4 linked regions of the Homo sapiens genome follow. The protein of the gene in region 4 purifies or fractionates together with the protein of the main gene of each other region. This does not show direct contact. Each region holds a gene or a part of one and is shown on either strand. Other genes may lie near its edges.

What was found. Proteins that work in one complex are often made in the same cells at the same time.
Region 1: the proteins of CCNJL (region 4) and C15orf39 purify together in Homo sapiens (affinity purification with mass spectrometry; 3 studies listed by BioGRID and IntAct, with this or other methods). This does not show direct contact.
Region 2: the proteins of CCNJL (region 4) and TRMT44 purify together in Homo sapiens (affinity purification with mass spectrometry; 3 studies listed by BioGRID and IntAct, with this or other methods). This does not show direct contact.
Region 3: the proteins of CCNJL (region 4) and PIK3C2A purify together in Homo sapiens (affinity purification with mass spectrometry; 3 studies listed by BioGRID and IntAct, with this or other methods). This does not show direct contact.

Annotation. Positions count from the first base shown.
Region 1 is NC_000015.10:75,204,882-75,209,293, reverse strand, and holds part of C15orf39 (uncharacterized protein C15orf39), read right to left. Parts: intron 3,296-4,412; 5' UTR 3,246-3,295; coding exon 470-3,245; intron 1-469.
Region 2 is NC_000004.12:8,443,777-8,448,188, reverse strand, and holds part of TRMT44 (probable tRNA (uracil-O(2)-)-methyltransferase), read right to left. Parts: intron 1,714-4,412; coding exon 1,599-1,713; intron 1-1,598. UniProt on the Homo sapiens protein: Probable adenosyl-L-methionine (AdoMet)-dependent tRNA (uracil-O(2)-)-methyltransferase.
Region 3 is NC_000011.10:17,197,075-17,201,486, forward strand, and holds part of PIK3C2A (phosphatidylinositol 4-phosphate 3-kinase C2 domain-containing subunit alpha), read right to left. Parts: intron 1-4,412.
Region 4 is NC_000005.10:160,308,735-160,314,583, forward strand, and holds the start of CCNJL (cyclin-J-like protein), read right to left. Parts: upstream 3,831-5,849; 5' UTR 3,630-3,830; intron 3,239-3,629; 5' UTR 3,190-3,238; coding exon 3,124-3,189; intron 1-3,123.

The sequences.
Region 1 (4,412 bases), on a different chromosome or scaffold from region 4:
TTTGGGATGAGTTCAGTGTGGGAGAGAGACCCAGGGGCTGAGGCCCAGCATGCAGTGGGTTATTTAGGGCTAGAGCTCACAAAGGGGATGCTAGGCTGGAGATCAGGGAAATTATCTCAGCTAGAAAACAGGGCCTAACCAGAGTGCCGGAAACACTGCACCAAAGATGGAGAAGGCACAGGCAGAGGAGGAGGGAATCCAAGAAGGTGCAGCACCAGGGGAGGCCGAGGAGTTTCCATGGGGACAGAGCAGCTGGCATGTTCAGAAGCCTACAAAAGAGGCTATGAAGGTGCTCACTGATTGTCTGGAGGGTCAAGGGGTGGGGGTACCTAGAGCTCATCCTAAAGCCCCCTACCCGGGCAGGAGTCCTTGGAATCACTCAGCCCCAGCTGTGACGCACTCACACAGCACACACACCTGTCACTTGCTCACACAGCTCCGGTGGCCACTGGGGCTGCCCCATGCTCACCCAGCTGGCGGCGTACACAGTCGCGCCACTGCAGGCCGAGAAGGTCGGGGTAAATGTCCGGCAGCTGGCGCAGCGCCAGTAACTTCAGCATGCGTGAGGTGCAGCCTGGCAGGGCGAGCTCCCGCAGTGCCCGCTCCTCCGACAGCGTGGTGGGCCGCAGCTCCACACGATGCTCCTGCAGCACATGGTCCACAGAAGCGGGTGGCAGCCGAGGGAAGAGCCGCTCCTTCACCAGGTGAATGGGCACGAAGATGGCGCCAGCTCGCACCACATGGGGGAAGGGGCACCGGTGGGTGCGATCGAAGCGCTGCAGCTGAGACAGCAGCTTGGCCAGCAGCCCCTGCACACCCTGGCAGTCCTGCCACGCAGCCTGGCCCCAGGGCCCAGCCGTCTCTAGCCACTCGCGAAGCTTCTCTGGAGGAGAGTGGGCGACGGAGCCAGAAATAGCATCACACAGGGACGCATGTAGTCCTGTAAAATGCTGCTCCAGGGAGTCCCCTGGGGCTGAAGTAGATGCTGGAGCAGGGCCTGCAACTGGAGCTGGAGCTGGAGCTGGATCCCGGGCTGAAGCTGGAGCCTGAGCTCGAGCCGGAGCAGGGGATGGAGCTGGAGCAGGGGCAGGGGAGGCCACAGCTACGGCTGGAGGGCTGGGCAGTGCCAGGCTGAAGCAGGTCACAGACAAGGGCTGTTGAGCGAGAATCCGCAGTCCAATGGGCCCAGATGTGGGGGTGGGTGCAGGCTGTGTGGGAGCAGGAGCTGAGGTGGGCGTGGACGGGACCACGGCTGCAGGCAAAGGTGCCGGACGGAGGATCTTGAACTTTCGGAACATGAAGGCCACAGAGCTGTGGAAGTTGGTCCTTGGCATGGCATCTGTGGTCACTGGCACCCCAGGCAAGCCTGGTGCTTCTGTGTCTATCTTTTTCAGGCCTGGCAGATCTGACACCATGTTGCCCACATCTGGCACATCCATGGCTGCAGTAGGCTTGGCATGCTCCACAGAACGGGAAGCCTTGACAGGGGAGGCCTCTGCTGTGGGCTTCCTCACACTCAAATCCAGGGCTACCTCCTCCTTAAGTGAGCCCCTTAGGGGTTTACTCCCTGAGGGGCCCTCCTGGGCAGGCAGGGTCCCCCTGCAGCCTTTGTCCTGACCTTCACTGGTGGCTGGGGCTGAGTCAGGCTCAGCTGTGGCAGAGTCAGGCTCAGTTGTGGCCTCGGGTGCCGGCACATCCAGATAGTCACGGTAGGGGGCCAGGCTGAAGACATTGTCAATGACAGGCATTGGTGGAGAGCTGGGTGGCCTTGCGCCCTCCTTCTGTGGAAGAGACTGGCACTCCCGGGCACAGGGGGGCAGTGCTGGGGGGGTACAGGGAACTGGACTGTCTCGGATGACGATGGGCGGCCCAGAGTGCTCACTGAGCCGGGGCTGGAGCTTCTCTTTCCTGCAGCTGGGCAGCCAGGTCTTCTCTTCGGCTTCCTGTGCAGGCCTCACAGGCTCTGAGCAGGGCTGGCTCGCTGGCAAAGGCTGGCATGCCCTCTGGAAGGCACCAGGCTGTGGCACAGCCCGCACATTGTTCTGGGAAGGTGGTGTCCCTCCAAGCCCAGGGGATGCTCCATAGAGAGAGAGGTCATCCCGGGCATAAGGAAAACTCAGTGTCTGGGGGGCAAAGTCCAATGGGCACCGTGGAGTGAGAGGCGGCTCCAGCTTGAGGCCTGGAGAGGGTGCTGGGAGAGGGGCAGAGGGGTAGGGGTAAGCGTCCAGCCCCAGTGGGGGAATGTAAGGTGCCTGGGCTGCCTGCTGCCTCAGGTAGGGGCTGCCCAGCCCACCAGCCTGGTACCCGGTCCCCTTGTGGCCCCCCAGAGGCTGCAGTGGGAGTGCTGGGCTGTAGCTGCCCTGCTTCTCTGGGTGGCGACAGGCTGGAGGGCAAGGCAGGGCCTGTGGAGGGTGGGGTGGTGGGTGGTGGGGTGGTGGGTAGTGGGTGGGCCCGGTGTCCTGACAGGGTGGCCCCAGGGGCTGGGCCAGCTGGGTCCAAGGACTTGAGGGCCCCTCAGACATTGCTTGCTTGGAGTTCCTAGGGTAAGGACCTGTGTACCTGGAGGCCAGGAAGCCCGTGCTGTGGATGGTCTGATATTTCTCCAGGAAGGGCTGGCATGGGGAGAAGCTCCCTGAGGAGTCTTTACTGGACCCCTCAGCTGGCACCCCCCGCAAGAAGGTGCCATCCAGAGTCTGGCCCTTGCTAGGAGCTGGGGCCAGAGAGCAGGGTGGGTCAGCTGAGGGCAACAGGGGCCCAGTCGCCAGAGTCCAGTCAACATCCAGTGGCCTCTTCACTGCTCCTTCCCCCAGACAAGTTGAGAGCCCATAGCACAGAGGGTTGCGGTAGACAGGTTTGGGTGCTGCCAGTGGTGGGCCTGGGTAGGAGTGAGCCTGGGGACTGAAGGGCAGGAGCTCAACAGGGCTGGAGTCCTGCATCTTCTCAGGGCCTTCTGCTGGCGAGCGGTAGAACAGGCAGTTGGTCAGCAGGTTGTCTGCCTGAAGTGGGGGTCCTGCCATACCGGTAGAGTACAAGGGTGGGTATGGGGTCCAGGACGCCAACTGCTCAGACTCGGCCTTAGGAGTACCTGCCATGGGGCAGGAGAAGTAGGACCCCTTGTAGGTGCAGGGATCCTGGTTACCAACAGAGTGGGGCAGGCTGTGCTCGAGCCCGGAGTCTGTCTCTAAGCGGGGCAGCTTGCCATACATCACAGGCCCCAGGGTTCTCAGGGGTCGCTTCTCTGCCATCGCTGTGAAGGCTTCGAGCCCTCCTAGGCCCCTGCTACTCAACTTCTGACCTGGGATAGAGAGAGAAAGGCAGGGGCTGTCAGGAAAACAGGCTACAGGCAAAGCAACAGAGGGCTGCTGCTCTCATCAGCTCACGGCTACACCTAAGAACCTGGCGCTTAAATGATGCTCAGTTAAGACTGTGAGTGCATGAGCCACGTGACAGAGGTTTCCAACTCGTGTATGTATTTTTTGAGGCAGGGTCTCACTCTGTTGCCCGGGCTGGAGTGCAATGACATGAACTTGGCTCACCGCAGTCTCAACCTCCTGGGCTCAAGTGATTCTCCCAACTCCCAGGTTGCTGGGACCACAGGTGCCTGCTACCACACCCGGCTCATTTTAGTATTTTATGTAGAAACAGGGTCTTACTATGTTACCCAGGCTGGTCTTGAACTCCTGGACTCATGTGATCCTCCCATCTTGGCCTCCCAAAATGCTGAAATCACAGGCATGAACCACCTACTGCTCCTGACCCCAACTCGTATATTTTAAGCTGCAGAACCCTTTGTTTAATGAATTATTCTACACAGAACCCCCACCCATCCCCACTCCAGGAGCCCCTTCTGTTCGATTTTCCTCCATACAACTCCCAAGATCCCCTCCTTCTTGGGATTTCAGAATTTGTAGGGGCACTGGGTCTCAGGGTCACTTGACATACCCTGCCGCCACCCCCTCATATACAGATGAGGAGACCCATTCATCCCAAAGTCACCAATGAAATAGACACAACGAGAAGCAGGCCTCCTGCCTCCCACCACAGGGTCCTATTCCAAGATGCCACAGTGATGCCCACTGCAGCCAAAACATGGAATCTGAGTATTGTCTACAAATTCACAGATTTCTTGTGACACTCCTCTGACCTGCTGATCTTGTCAAAAATGGCAGAGTCGGGCCTCCAGCCCAGGTCCCTAGGCCCAAAGCCAATGCTGAGATACTGGACTTGGCTCTGGAGAGCAGTCCCCTAGGAGAGGTAACTGGGGACATCAGTCTGTACAAGCCACACCCCTCTCGCCCCACTCCTCCCCCTCCGCAGGAGTCAGGGCAGCCCAGCAGATGGTGCTGCAGCACCAGCAGGAAGGTCCCAGAGCATGAGGAGCCTGGATCCACCCCCAGCCCCCAAGCTGCAGA
Region 2 (4,412 bases), on a different chromosome or scaffold from region 4:
CCCTGAAGTGTGACCTGTGCCCAGAGACTGCAAGGAATAGCGGCCCGGTGAGGCTATGACTAGAAATGCCACCCTGGGAAGGTGGGGGCAGCAGCCACGTCCTCAGTAGCTCGTTAAAGAGCAGTGAACGTCACTCCGATGCCGACTAGAAATGCCACCCTGGGAAGATGGGAGCAGCAGCCACGTCCTCAGTAGCTTGTCAAAGAGCAATGAAAGTCACTCCAACGCAGCAGGCACATGCCAAGCACCTCCTGCAACCCCGCCCTGCACCAGGTGCCCACTGCCCCCAAGACAGGCACCACTTTCTGGCTAATGGGCACACAGTTCAGCATCGCCGAGCACAGAGGTGCCTGGCACAGGTAAGCATGGCTTCTCCTAGTGTCTGCTCTCACTCCTCACTCTCCAACAAGGGCATGCTAGCAGGAAGGGACCTCAGGGCAGGATCCCCTGACAACTCGGGGCAACCTCTGGATGGTTCTCAAAGGGCTTCATGCTACAGGGCCTGAGCACCCCTTTCAAGCACGAAGGCTGCAACAGATCCATGTGAGGCCCAGCCCTGCCACCTCCTCAGAGGCTCAGGAATGATTAAACCCATTTCAAGGTGAGTAGACAGAGGGCCAGGAGGTAGAGCACATCCCCAAGACCACACTGCTAGTGGGAAGCCCATGCTCTTCTCGCCACATCCCTCTGCTTTCTAGGAAGCCCCGGGCAAACTCATTCCAGTTACTCAGACATTATCCCCAAGACTGTTTCGGAAAGTACAGCTTGGATGTGGCACTCAGGAAAATATCAGCTGACAAGTCATGAATGAATTCACCCCTCCTCTGACTTTTTCGTTTTAAAAATACCAAACGGTATGAATTAAATTTTATACTTTCTATACAGGCCCAAATACCATATGGAATTAAGGGTGCTTATTAAACCGCTACTTTATAATAAGTATCACTGAATACTTACTACAGAAGGAACCATCACCTATTCCCCATTACTAAGTCATAAAAAATAACAAAATAGGCTGGGCTTGGTGGCTCATGCCTGAAATCTCAGCACTTTGGGAGGCCAAGGCAGGTGGATCACCTGAGGTCAGGAGTTTGATACCAGCCTGGCCAACATGGCGAAACCCCGTCTCTACTGAAAATACAAAAATTAGCCGGGTGTGGTGGTGGGTGCCTGTACTGTGCAGACTGAGGCACGAGAATCACTTAAATGCAGGAGGTAGAGGTTGCAGTGAAATGCGATGGCACCAATGCACTCCAGCCTGGGCAACAGTGTAAGACTGTCTCAATAATAATAATAACAATAACAATAAAGAAATTTGAGTTTGACTTCAGAGCTAATGCTAAGGGCTGCTGATCATCACAGCCACAGGGAAGGTAGAGATCAGAAACCCCAGCCAGGCTGTGACCACCCAGACTCGAGGCCAGGCACCAACAGGAAGAGCAACATGGCCTGGGCACATAAGCTAGCAACTGCATTCCTACAAACCATAACCACCTCAGAGACAGGACCTTAAGCCCTGGCAACCCAGAATCCTTTGGCTACCTAAAGAAATCCTCAATGGAAACCATAAAACTAGGAGTCCACTGTCCAGCTCTTACCATTCTTCTTTGCTATGACTGAGCTGAATTTGATACACATTGCTCATCTTAACCTTTAGGTTCCCCTCATCATCTTCTTCCAAAGGCAAAAACGTTATGGTTCCATTGAGGACATCTGGAAAGAAAAAGAGAAGAAGGACAAATTACAACTGCCTAGCTACCGTCTCATCAGAAGCAGTATTAAAAATAGGGATGAGTCAAGCACGATGCTTTCAATCCCCCAGCACTCTATTCACAATGGCACTCCAGGAGAGGAACTTTTGCCTTTCATTCACTGCTACAGCCCACAGCCTAGAATGTGCCAGGCATACAGCAGCCATTCTCTGCAAGTATCTGTTGAGAGATGCATGAGCCAGGACCTGAGGGAAGAGCCAGCCAATGTGGACTCTATTGGAACTTGAGAGCTACAATCAGAGAAAACAGGGGACCTCTGCCCTAACTGAGTGTCTGCCACAGCCTGACCATGATCTTCGAGTGTGAGCAAGGCACAGAACACTGCTCAGCCATCAGAGGCCAGTTCAGGAAAGCGGATATCAGTCCAGGCCTTCCTAACAACCGCTTTATGTTGTGTGGAGCCCTTGCTGCATGTACGGACTTCACAGTCACCTTCCCATTAAAATATAAGCAGAGTGGCATATTCCTAAGCTAAATTTACAGCATTCTGTCAGTTTGTGTGGATACTTAAGGTTTGGTTGTATAAAGTTCTATCTCTAAAATCAATCGTGTTTACCTTTGATATTAAAAAAAAATTGCAAACTCTGTTAAAGAGGAATATACACTTCACAGGCCAAATATGCACAACTGTGGTTCACCTTCCACAGCAGATGAAAGAACAAGACCTGCCAAAAGGAAGCAGAGGCTGAAGGGGCTAAGTGGATTCAGATGGAAAGCAAGCAGTGTGGGGCCGAGAAAACTCTAACAATCAGAGTCTACTGCTATGGAATACAGGGTGGCCAGGGAAGTCCTCCCTAGTTAGGTGACATTTGAGCAGAGAGCCGAAGGAGGTCAGGGAGTGTGCCATGGGGCACCTGGAAGAAGAGTGTTTCAGACACAGGAGCAGCAATTGCAAAGGCCCTAGGGCAGGCGTGTGCTCAGGTGCATGGGGAATGGAGGTGAGTGGCGTGGACAAGGTGACAAGTGGTAGAAGGTGAAATCAAAGGGTAACAGGGCCCACCCAGGTCACATAGGGCCTTGCAGTTCATAGAAGTACAGCTTTTACTGTGAGTGAGACCAGAGAGAAGAGGACTGACACAATGCATCATTCTTTCCATGAATTATCTCATTTAAAAACTGCAACAGGACCAGGCGTGATGGCCCATGCCTGTTGTCCCAGCACTTTGGAAGGCCAAGGTGCGAGGCTCACTTGAAACCAGGAGTTAGAGACCAGACTAAGAAACATAGTAAGACCCTATTTATACAAAAAATAAATAAAGTAAAATAAAGCTCACAACTTTATCATCCAGTATTATTTTCACCATCCTCTGGATCAGGGTTTCTTAGCCTCAGTGTCACTGGCATGTGTGGCTGGATAACTCCTTATTGTTGGGAGTTGTCCCGTGCACTGTAGCATGTTTATAAGAAGCCCTGGCCCCTACCCACTAGATGCCAGCAGCATCCTCTCCCTCCCTGCCCAGTGTGGCAACCCCAAATCTGCTGTCACTGTTGTCGCTACACAATGATAAATTTCGATTTTTAAAATTTTTAAATTTTTCATTTTTGTGGGTACATAGCAGGTATATATATTTACAGGGTACATGAAATGTTTTGATCCAGGCATGCAATGTGAACTAATCACATCATGGAGAATGGGGCATCCATCCCCTCAAACATTTATCCTTTGTGTTACAAACAATCCAATTACACTCTTTTCGTTATTTAAAAATGTACAATAGTGGCCGGGAGAGGTGGCTCACGCCCGTAACCCCGGCACTTTGGGAGGCCAAGGCAGGCGGATCACGTGAGGTCAGGAGTAGGAGACCAGTCTGGCCAACATGGTGAAACCCCATCTCTACGAAAAATACAAAAATTAGCTGGGCGTCGTGGCACATGCCTGTAATCCCAGCTGCTTGGGAGGCTAAGTTAGGAGAATCGCTCGAACCCAGGAGGCGGAGGTTGCAGTGAGCTGAAATCACACCACTGCACTCTAGCCTGGGCCACAGAGCGAGACTACTCTCAAAAAAAAAAAAAAAGTACAATTAAGTTATTATTCATTATAATCCCCCTGTTAGACTATCATATACTAGGTGTTATTCATATTCTATTTTTTTTGTACACTTTAACCATCCCACCTCTCCCCCAACCCTCCACTCCCCTTCCCACCCTCTGGTAACCATCCTTCCACTCTCTATGTCCACGAGTTCCATTGTTTTGATTTTTAAACCCCATAAATAAGTGAGAACATGTGATGTTTGAATGACAAACTTCTGAGGATCAAAACTGCCCCGACTGAAACCTCTGTTCTAGATGAGAAAACCAGGCGTTCAACAGATTAAGTAATCTGTCTCAAATCCACATAGCCTCAAACTGAATTCTGTTCTTTAACTAAAGAAGTCAAGTTCTTAACCACTATGTCATCCTGTCACCTGCTACTAACAGTTAAGATTTCTTAGTCACATTCCTTTTTTTTTTTTTTAGACTGAGTCCCCGTCTGCTGCCCAGGCTGGAATGCAGTGGCACAATCTTGGTTCACTGCAACCTCCACTCACCGGGTTCACGTCATTCTTCTGCCTCAGTCTCCTGAGTAGCTGGGATTACAGGCACCTGCCACTACGCCTGGCTAATTTTTTGTATTTTTAGTAGAGACGGGGTTTCACC
Region 3 (4,412 bases), on a different chromosome or scaffold from region 4:
GATCACAAGGTCAGGAGGCTCACTGCAACCTCCACCTTCCAGCTCAAGCGATCCTCCCGCCTCAGCCTCCTGAGTAGCTGGGATTATAGGCGAGCACCACCATGCCTGGCTAATTTTTTATTTTTAGTAGAGATGCGGTTTCACCATGTTGCCCATGCTGGTCTTGAACTTCTGGGCACAAGAGATCCACCCACCTCAGCTTCCCAAAGTGCTGGGACTACAGGCATGAGCCACCGCACCTGGCCCCCACTCCATTCTTTAGCCTCCATATTACTCTATTAAAACGATTATCCACTGCACAACTACTATAAGCACATTAATAAAGGCCTTAATTCTATTTTGACAAAAGGCAATGGTTGCACCATAGCTTAATATCCACTAGTAGTCATTATTCCTGAAGACTAGTAGTCTTCAGCCCTTAGGAGCAACATTCTACACATAAGTGATTCACAACCAGGGTATCTAACCATGATAATTTTCTATGTCTGCATATGTGTATCACTGTATGTATGTGGGAGGGGGACAAGGAAAGGGGATATAGTCACAGCAAGAGATCCCTATTGAAAGACATTTTGCTGACCAAGAAGTTTTCAATCTAACTCAGAATCCCAACAGTAGTACTGCTTTGTGGAGATAATTACTGAACTTTGATCTACTTCATTGTTCATTCACTTGACATGAATCATTAAATAAACTTTGACATCACCCCAATTCCAACATGACAGATAACAGTAAAGCTTCTGTGTTAAATGTTATGGTATATACCTGCATTTAACATGGCTTAAGGTAGAAAAAAGATAAAACTGAGTTGCAACTGAGAAACCCTGAATAGTGAATAATAAAAAATAACGAAAAACTGACATGACTACTTCTGGAATTTTCCCCCAAACTCCATCAATTTCTATGACTAAAAAAGTCTTACTTTCACATGACATCAACATGTGGATTAAATTCATAGTTTTATATAACAGTGATAGCAGGAGAAAGAACCATGTAGCAGCAAGCAAATATCAGACTTCCCTCTTATAAACTGTGTGATTTTTTTTTTTTTTGAGATGGAGTCTTGCTCTGTCTCCCAGGCTGGAGTACAGTGGCACAGTCTCCGCTCATTGCAACCTCCACCTCCCAGGTTCAAGCCGATTCTCCTAACTCAGCCTCCCAAGTAGCCAGGATTACAGGTGCCCGCCACCACACCCGGCTGATTTTTGTATTTTTAGTAGAGACAGGGTTTCACCATGTTGGCCAGGCTGGTCTCGAACTCCTGACCTCAGGTGATCCACCCACCTCAGCCTCCCAAAGTGCTGGGATTACAGGCATCAGCCACACTGCCAGGCCAACTGTGTGATTTTTAAAGTAAGTTACTTGATCTCCCTTTGTCTTTAGTTTTCTCATCTGTAAAACACAGATAATACTGTGTTTTCAGAGTTAAATAAAATTATATAATAAAATGCTTAGCATATAATAGCGATTTTAAAATACGTTTCCATCCAATTATTTTTCCTTTTAAAAAATGTTAACATCACCCTGCCTTGACCATTGTTGAAACAAGCATCAGTATGTTGCTACCATTAACTGTGCACAGTGGCATGCATCTGTACTCCCACCTACTCTGGAGGCTGAGGCAGAAGGATCCTTTGAGCCTATCAGGTCAAGGCTATACTGCATTACGATTGTCTCTGCGAATAGCCATTGTATCCCAGCCTGGACAACACAGCAAGACCTCATAAAAAACAAAACAAAACAAAAAAAAAAAGCCACCTTAGTCTGGGCGCAGTGGCTTACATCTATAATCCCAGCACTTTGGGAGGCCGAGGTGGGTGGATCACTTGAGGTCAGCAATTCGAGACCAGCCTGGCCAACGTGGTGAAACACTGTCTCTACCAAAAATACAAAAATTAGCCACGCGTGCTGACAGGCACCTGTAATCCCAGCTACTTGGGAGGATGAGACAAGAGAATCACTTGAACCTGGGAGGCAGAGGTTGCAGTGAGCTGAGATCATGCCATTGCACTCCAGCCTGGGCAACAGAGTGAGACACCGTCTCAAGAAAAAAAAAAAAAAGCCAACTTATTATCAATAAGGACATGAAAAGATACTCAATATCACTAGTCAACCTACTAGAATGGCTATAACTGGAAAAAAGGAAAACAACAAGTGGTGGCAAGGGTGTAGAAAAAGTGGAACCCTGATACTTTGCTGCTAAGGGAATGTAAAATGGTACAGCCACTTTGGAAAACACTTTAGTGTTTCTTCAAAAAATTAAATATGGAATTACAACAACCCAGCAATTCCACTCCTAGATATATACCCAAAAGAACTGAAAATAGGAGTACACTAATACTCATAGCAGCATTGTTTATAATAGCCAAAAGGTGAAAACAAATGCAGTATCCATCAATGAATTAATATACAAAATGTGGTACATTAAATATGATTCAGCCATAAAAATGATACATTCTACAACATGTATGAACCTTGAAAACATTACGCTAAGTGACATAAGTCAGACACAAAAGGCTAAATATTACACGATTCCAATCACACGAAAGATCTAGAATAGGTAAATTCACAGAGACAAAAAGTAGAGGCTGGGCACAGGGGCTCACGCCTGTAATCCCAACACTTTGGGAGGCCAAGGCAGGTGGATCAAGACCATCCTGGCCAACATGGTGAAACCCTGTCTCTATTAAAAATACAAAAATTAGCTGGGCGTGGTGGTACATGCCTGTAGTCCCAGCTACTCGGGAGGCTGAGGCAGAATTGCTTGAACCTGGGAGGCAGAGGTTGCAGTGAGCTGAGATCGTGCCACTACATTCCAGCCTCCATCTCAAAAAAAAAAAAAAAAAAAGTAGATTAGTGGTTACCAGGGGCTGGGTTGAGAAGAGAATGAACAGTCACTGCTTAACAGCTACAGAGTTTGTTTGGGATGGTAAAAAATACAAAAAATACAAAAATACAAAAATTAGCTGGGCATAGTGGTGCGTGCCTGTAATCCCAGCTACTCAGGAGGATGAGGCACGAGAATCGCTTGAACCCAGGAGGAGGAAGTTGCAGTGAGCTGAGATCGCGCCACTGCACTCCAGCCTGGGCGACAGAGCGAGACTGCATTTCAAAAAAAAAAAAGGCATTAGAAAGTCATCGTCTTGATCGAAATCTTCATATTGTTTCCCATTTTCAACAAACTTAATTCTAGAACCTTGCAGGTTTGACCATTAGCAAAAATTAGTAGTTTACATAAATTTAAACATAGGGGAAACTAGGTGCAGGGTTTAAGGGATTTCTCTGTACTACAATTACAAATTTTCTGTAAATTGGTAACTTCATGATTTTTCTATAAACTTTCTAAAAAAGTTTATTAATAAAAAAGAGACATGTTATTGAATCTCAAAAGTGTTATGCTAAATGAAAGAAGCCAGTCTCAAAAGGCTATATACACTGTGTGATGCCAATTTATATGGCATTTTGGGAAAGGCCAAACTATAGGGATAAAAAACAAATGAGCTGTTGCCAGGGAGTGAGGGGTGGGCTGAAGGGATTTACTTCAAAAGGGCATAATTATGGAAATTTTTGGAGTGATGGAAATATTCTATATCTTGTATCTTAATTGTGGTGGTGGCAGTTACACAACTGTCACTGTTTTTTGTAATTCATCTGTTTTAGCAGAACTATACAGAACTTTACACCTAAAACAGATGAATTTTACTAAGTGTAAATTATACCTTAATAAGTATGACTTTTCAAAAAGAATCCTTAACAATGGTAGTATCATGTCATACATTTCAATACACACAGAATTCTAGCCTGATAAATGTCATTATGAGATCTAGTCAGATGAAACTAGGCGATTCAAGCCGGGCACGGTGGCTCATGCCTGTAATCCCAGCACTTTAGGAGGCAGATGTGGGCGGATCACTTCAGGTCAGGAGTTCAAGACCAGCCTGGCCAACATGGTGAAATCCCGTCTCTACTAAAAACCCAAAAATTAGCCAGATGTGGTGGCAGACGCCTGTAATCCCAGCTACTCAGGAAGCTGAGACAGGAAAATCGCTTGAACCTGTGAGGCGGAGGTTGCAGTGAGCCAAGATCGTGCCACTGCACTCCAGCCTGGGTTACAGAGCGATATTCTATCTAAAAAATAAAAATAAAAAATAAGCCTTGAAAACCCCTCCCTAGGCCTGGTGTGGTGGCTCATGCCTGTCATCCCAGCACTTCAGGAGGCCGAGGCAGGCAGATCATGAGGTCAAAAGATTGAGACCATCCTGGCCAACATGGTGAAACCCCATCTCTACTAAAAATACAAAAATTAGCCGGGCGTGGTGACGTGTGCCTGTAATCCCAGCTACTTGAGAAGCTGAGGCAGGAGAATCACTTGAGCCTGGGAGGCAGAGGTTGCAGTGAGCCAAGATCGCACC
Region 4 (5,849 bases):
GACAGAGTGAGACTCCGTCTCAAAGAAACCAACCAACCAAACAAACAAAAAACAGAAAAACACTTCAGATCCTGGTAAATGCTACAAAGAAAAAGCAAGGTGATTTAATAGAGTGACATGGAGAGGCAGCAATAGATTAAGGGAGACAAGCAACCATGTGAGAGTCTGAGAAACACAGAATCCAAATAGAGGAAAGAGCCAGTGCAAAGACCCTGAGACATGAACAAGCTTGACTTGTTCCAGGAACAGAAAGGAGGTCAGTGTGGCTTAAGAGCAATGGCATGGAGGGTAGGGAAGGGGTAAGAGACAAGGTCAGAGAGCAGGCCAGAGCCAGGCTATGCTGGGTATTCCACGCAGTGGTAAGGACTGGGAATTTTAAGTGCAGTGAGATGACATTGGAGGTCTTTAAGCAGAGAATGACACAATCTAAATTCTGGCTATTCTGGGAAGAATGGATGATAGGGGCCAGATTTAGAGAGGTTAAATGAGCAGATCAGGGTTTCACTTCCATCACTAGCGTGCATGCAGTACCAAGACTTGTTTCCATGGTGTCAAGTTTTTGATACCCTGTAGTATGATGCCAGACTGGAATCTCATATTTGACAAACTGGGGCTCCCAACGTCTCAGTGATCTCAACTTCGCCTCCTGTGTCGGTCAGGTGAGGATAATTGCTTGTGGTTGTATGGAAACAGTTACACAGCACATATGTAAACATGCTTTGTATTCATCAGGCAACATTCAACTAAGAGTGTCTACTGTGTGCCACGCTCTTGTAAAGTTGTTCTACAGTGTTAGAAACATATTATCAGAGTAGACATTTGAGAAAAACAATTACCCTGTCTGAGAAAAACAAAATGCCAGCCCTCATTCCTCAAGAAAGGCGAGGCTAGTATGGCTACTAAGTTCCCCTATTCTTCACTCTTCTTGCCAAACTCCATGAAGCCAAATTTTTGAAGAAGCATTTTCTTCTTTGAAGTGGGAGAGGAAATAAAGTAAAGGAGAACAATAGCAGTATTTTGAGGAGGTGGGACATTATAACCAAAGGAACTTGGGATTTGTCCTAATAAGGCCAGCTTTAAGTCAAGGTTGACCTTGGCCATCAGTCCTTGGGTGAGCTTTCTATTTCTAACCTGCAAAACTGGGACAAACTCATCGTCTCTCCGAGGTGGGCAGCCCAATAGTAAACTCATACGGCACTATGACATGGCTATAGCAGTTCATGGAGCCTTTCTTGCTTCTTTGAGCAGCCGAAGGAACATTTAGGACATCCTCCCTTATGTATAAAAGGTTGGGCATTCTCAGGTAACTAAACAAATGGCATTTATTGCTCTTAGAAATCCTTCCCTCTAGAAAGGGGCAAATCAGGTAGAAGTCGTTCCTCCTAAGCTATGAGCAGAAATGACAACCACTTGAGTCTATGATAAACAAGGAAGCCCAATTTCCACGGCAGTCCTCACTAGCTCCATTCAGCCACCTCCTCCAGAAAAGGGCCAGGACCATACCCCTACCACTTTCCTTGCTTTTCAACTGAACCAACAAGACCTGGATTTCTTCTTGTCCAGATGCCTAGAATGTGCCACACGTTGGCCACTCTGTTCTGGGAAGAAGACCAAGGGAACAGATGAAAGCCACAGCCTTGCCAAGCAACGCAGGACAAAGACAGGTCAGCAGGTACAGAAAGAAAAGAAAAAGGCATTAATTGGACAGGAAGACAGCTACTCAATGAGGTAAAAACACTGAGTAGCTGGTGACCCTTTAAGCAGAACTCCTCCAGACACTCGGAGCAAATGCACTGACTGTGAAACCTGTGTGGGGGCTCAGGTACTGCACTAGGAAGACCTTTTCCTCCCTGTATTGGGCGCAGTAGTGTCCCCCCAAATGTCATGTTAATCTGGAACTTCAGAATGTGACCTTACTTGGAAATGGAGTCTTTTCAGATGTAATTAAATTATGATGACATCACATTGGATTAGGGTGGGTTCTACTCCAATGATCGGGTATCCTTGTAAGAAGAGAAAACAGACAGACAGATAGCACCATGTGACAGTGGAGGCAGAGACTGGAATGATGTACCTACAAGCCGAGGAATGCCAAGGATGACCAAGCACCAGCAAATTTAAGAAGGAAGAAGGAAAGATCCTTCTCTAGAGCCTTTTGAGAGTCATGGCCCTGCTAACACCTTGATCTGGGATCTTCAGCTTCCAGAGCTGAAATAAATTTCTGTTGCTTTAAGCCCTCCAGTTTGTGTGGTCCTTTGTAATGGCAGCCCTAGGAAACCAATCCATTCACTACTTCACACCTGTTCCCCAAGCCACCCCTTGCCAATCTCAGCCCAGGGACTGGAGGCAAGACACACAGGCCATGCCTCCAGCCCACCTGGACTCTTCCACCTTCCCAATGCCCCTCAGCCCTTCTCTCCTTGAGGGGAGGGGTGTGCAGGGATCACATTTCAGCTGCTCCCACCCACCTTCTGCCACAGGAGGCAAACCGGCAGGGGAGTTTTTGTTTTCTTCCCTCAGCCTCCCTGTTTTGTAGCCTCTTTCAATTATACAGGTGTTCCTTAAATTTCATTCGGTCCCATTCTAGATATACACATAGATACACGTATTTGGCCATAACCATGTATTCCCTGTACTACCACTTATCTTTATATAGAGTTACTACTTTTACTTAAATTTGTTTTAAAATAAACTGCGACATCATTATTACAATAAATGGAAAATCGCAAACGCAGAGCTTGCTAGATACATACACATTCTTAAATTACACATTAGAATGAATACACAATATTTTTTAAAGACCCCTTCACGTACGGTTTAAAATAACCTAGGGTGGCAATACTATAGGAAACACTGCCTTAGAGGTACAGTGGCTGTCTCTGACTAGTTGGCCCAGAGTTCTGAGCTCCTTATCAGAAAAACCAACTTCAATCTCTCCCATCTCCAGTCTCTAACCCCCGCCCCCCAATTCCGCTCAGACACTCCGGGAGAAGGTAAAGGGTAAGAGGAAAAAAAGGCACCCGGGAGTTCTGAGTTCCCACGCAGGCGACCTGAGAACACGAAGTCGAGACCGAAGGAGACTGTACCCAGTCTTGAGAGTGACAAGGGCAGGGAGGGACTGACCTTCTCGCGCAGGGTGCAGTGGACGTCCGAGGCGACGCGCCCTTCCCACCACGGCTCATCCATCATCGCGTACGCAGCGCCGCTATCCGAGGCTACCCGGCTCTCAGGGCGCACCCTGCGTGGACACGGGCAACTTCAGCGGCCAGAGCGTACCCCGGGCTCCGACCCCCGGTGTCCCTATCCTCTCTCGCCCCTGGCCCCGGGCCCCGGCGGGCGCCCCCTCCTGCGCCGCTCAGAGGAGCTGGAGGTCGCCTCTGGTCCGCGGAAGGCTGCGGTGCCCCCTCCCCTCTGCTCGCCGGACACGGGGCGATATGGAGCTGTGCAACAACTTGCAGAATTTTTATCTTCCCTTTTGCAAAAGTTGCAGAGAAAGTTGTCAACTCCGCTAGCTCGCTCGAGGCTGGGGCTCTGGCGGCGGCCACAGGCTCGCCGTCCCCAACTCCTCCCCCGCCGCCCAGCCTTTGTCCTGCTCCCACATCCTGCCCTCGAGCCGGGGCGAAACTCACGCATCCTCTCTGGGCGTGGGGGGCTGCGAGCGCCGGGCCCCTCCCAGTGCCGAGCCAGCCGTGCCCTCTGGTGCCTGCCGGCGGTTGGACCCTCGTCCGAGGCGCTCCGCACTCCCGACGGCCGCCTCCGCAGCCCGACTAGCCCCCGCCGTCGCCGCGCCCCTGCGTGCGCTCGGGTCCCGCCGCGGCTCGCAGGCTCCCGGCCGCCGGGGGCCTCCCTCCCTCGCTGGGGGAATTGGGGGCCGGGCCTCGCGCATGCGCTGCCGGCGCCCCCGCGCCCCGCGGGGCGGGGGGCTGGGAATTGGAGCCTTTCTTTGCCAGCTCTGGCTCCGCTTCCTGCCCGCCCTCCTCCCTCGCTTCGGCGGAAAGCTTCTCTCTCACCTTCGCTGAGGCTAGTGGTAGCCTTCTGGGCACCCCTCCGGCTTGCGCAGGGAGCAAAGGGACCGCGGCGCCACCTGCGCGCACCACGCGTGAAACGTGCGGACAGGACGCCCCCAGAAAGTTCTGCCTTCCGCGCGCACTGCTCTAGCCATCCTTACGTCGGTTCCACCTGTTTTTCTTTCTCTCTCTCTTTTTTTTTTTTTCCTGTTTTTGTTTTTTGTTTGTTCTCCTCTTCTTTGAAACCCGCCCTGCCATGGGGAGGTAGATTTCCAAACGGACAATTCCAGTGAAAGCTGCAGAAAAACCACCCTTGTTCACCCACGAGTCCCTAATTCTAAAGGAGCCTAAGTCACTGGTATTATTGTGCTCCTGCAGAATATGAACTATGCCTCACATTGGAGGAAAACCAGTCTTTTTTTGCCGGGTCCGGTGGATGGAAAACATTGTCTTTTTAATTCAATTGCTTGCTTTTGGAAAGTCATCCTTTTGAGTCAGCCCATCTGATGGCATAGCATTGGGCTATCCTTCTTGGCTGATTGATTTTTGTGATAGTTTTGGAGATTCACAAATTTGGAATCAAATCCACTTACCAACTGGGTGATTTTTGTCAAGTTCCTCAAACTCAGAGCCTCGTGTGTAAAATGGAAATAAAAGTTAAACCAACCTGCTGAAAATTAAAGGAGATAATGCGTGTAAAGGGATAATCACTACACCAGGTATTAAGTGAACACTCAGTAAACAACTGTGACTGAAGAGCCTTTAGTTTCTGACTGCTTTCCTGCACATAAAGACACACCTGGGAAAAAAAAATTAAATCAGCTTTGATAAGCTTCAATTGGACCTTGAAGAGCAGTTTTAATGTAAAACAAACGAACCATTTTAAAAGTGTAAGATACCTAAAAATAAACTGAATAAATGTGCAGGCTCTTAATGAAGACATTACAAAGGTTGAAACATAATAAAGAAGGCTTGAAGGAATAGAGGCACAAACACCAACTTAACCCAAATTACTCTATTTAATAAAATTTTAATGGTTGTGGGTAGATTGGAGGAGGGGGCACTTAACATGTTTTCTAACCTTCAAATGGGAGAATATCTGCGAGAAAAGCTAAGAAATTTATATTTTAAAAATGGGGGGATGGCGGGGCGCGGTGGCTCACGCCTGTAATCCCAACACTTTGGGAGGCCAAGGGCAGGCAGATCACCTGAGGTCAGGAGTTTGAGACCAAACTGGCTAACATGGTGAAACCCTGTTTCTACTAAAAATACAAAAAATTAGCCGAGTGTGGTGGTGCACGCCTGTAATCCCAGCTACTTGGTAGGCTGAGGCAGGAGAGTCACTTGCATCTGGGAGGCGGAGGTTGCAGTGAGCCGAGATCGTGCCACTGCACTCCAGCTTGGGCAACAAGAGTGAAACTCCGTCTCAACAAACAAACGAACAAAAAAACTGGGGGGACAGACCTGTATTATCAAATCTTAAAGCATATTGCAACACTATAGTTAAAACAGTGTAGTGTTCACACAAGAATGGATGGATTAAGCATCAGTGGAATAACTGAAAGTCTAGGAAAATTTAATATATTTAAAAATTCACTGTATGATAAATGTGGCATTTCACTTTGTTGGGACAAGTATAAACGGCTAAATTATTTAATAAATTAGGTTGGGGGAAAAAAGTAAAACTAAGGACTTGTTTAAATATCACCAAAATAAATATAAGAACTCAGAGAACTACAAACAAGCAAATCACAAGAGGATAAGAAGAAAACATACACGAATTATACGGAGGGGAAGGCCTAGATACTAAGACATGGGAAGAAACCAAAGGCAAGGTGAGTA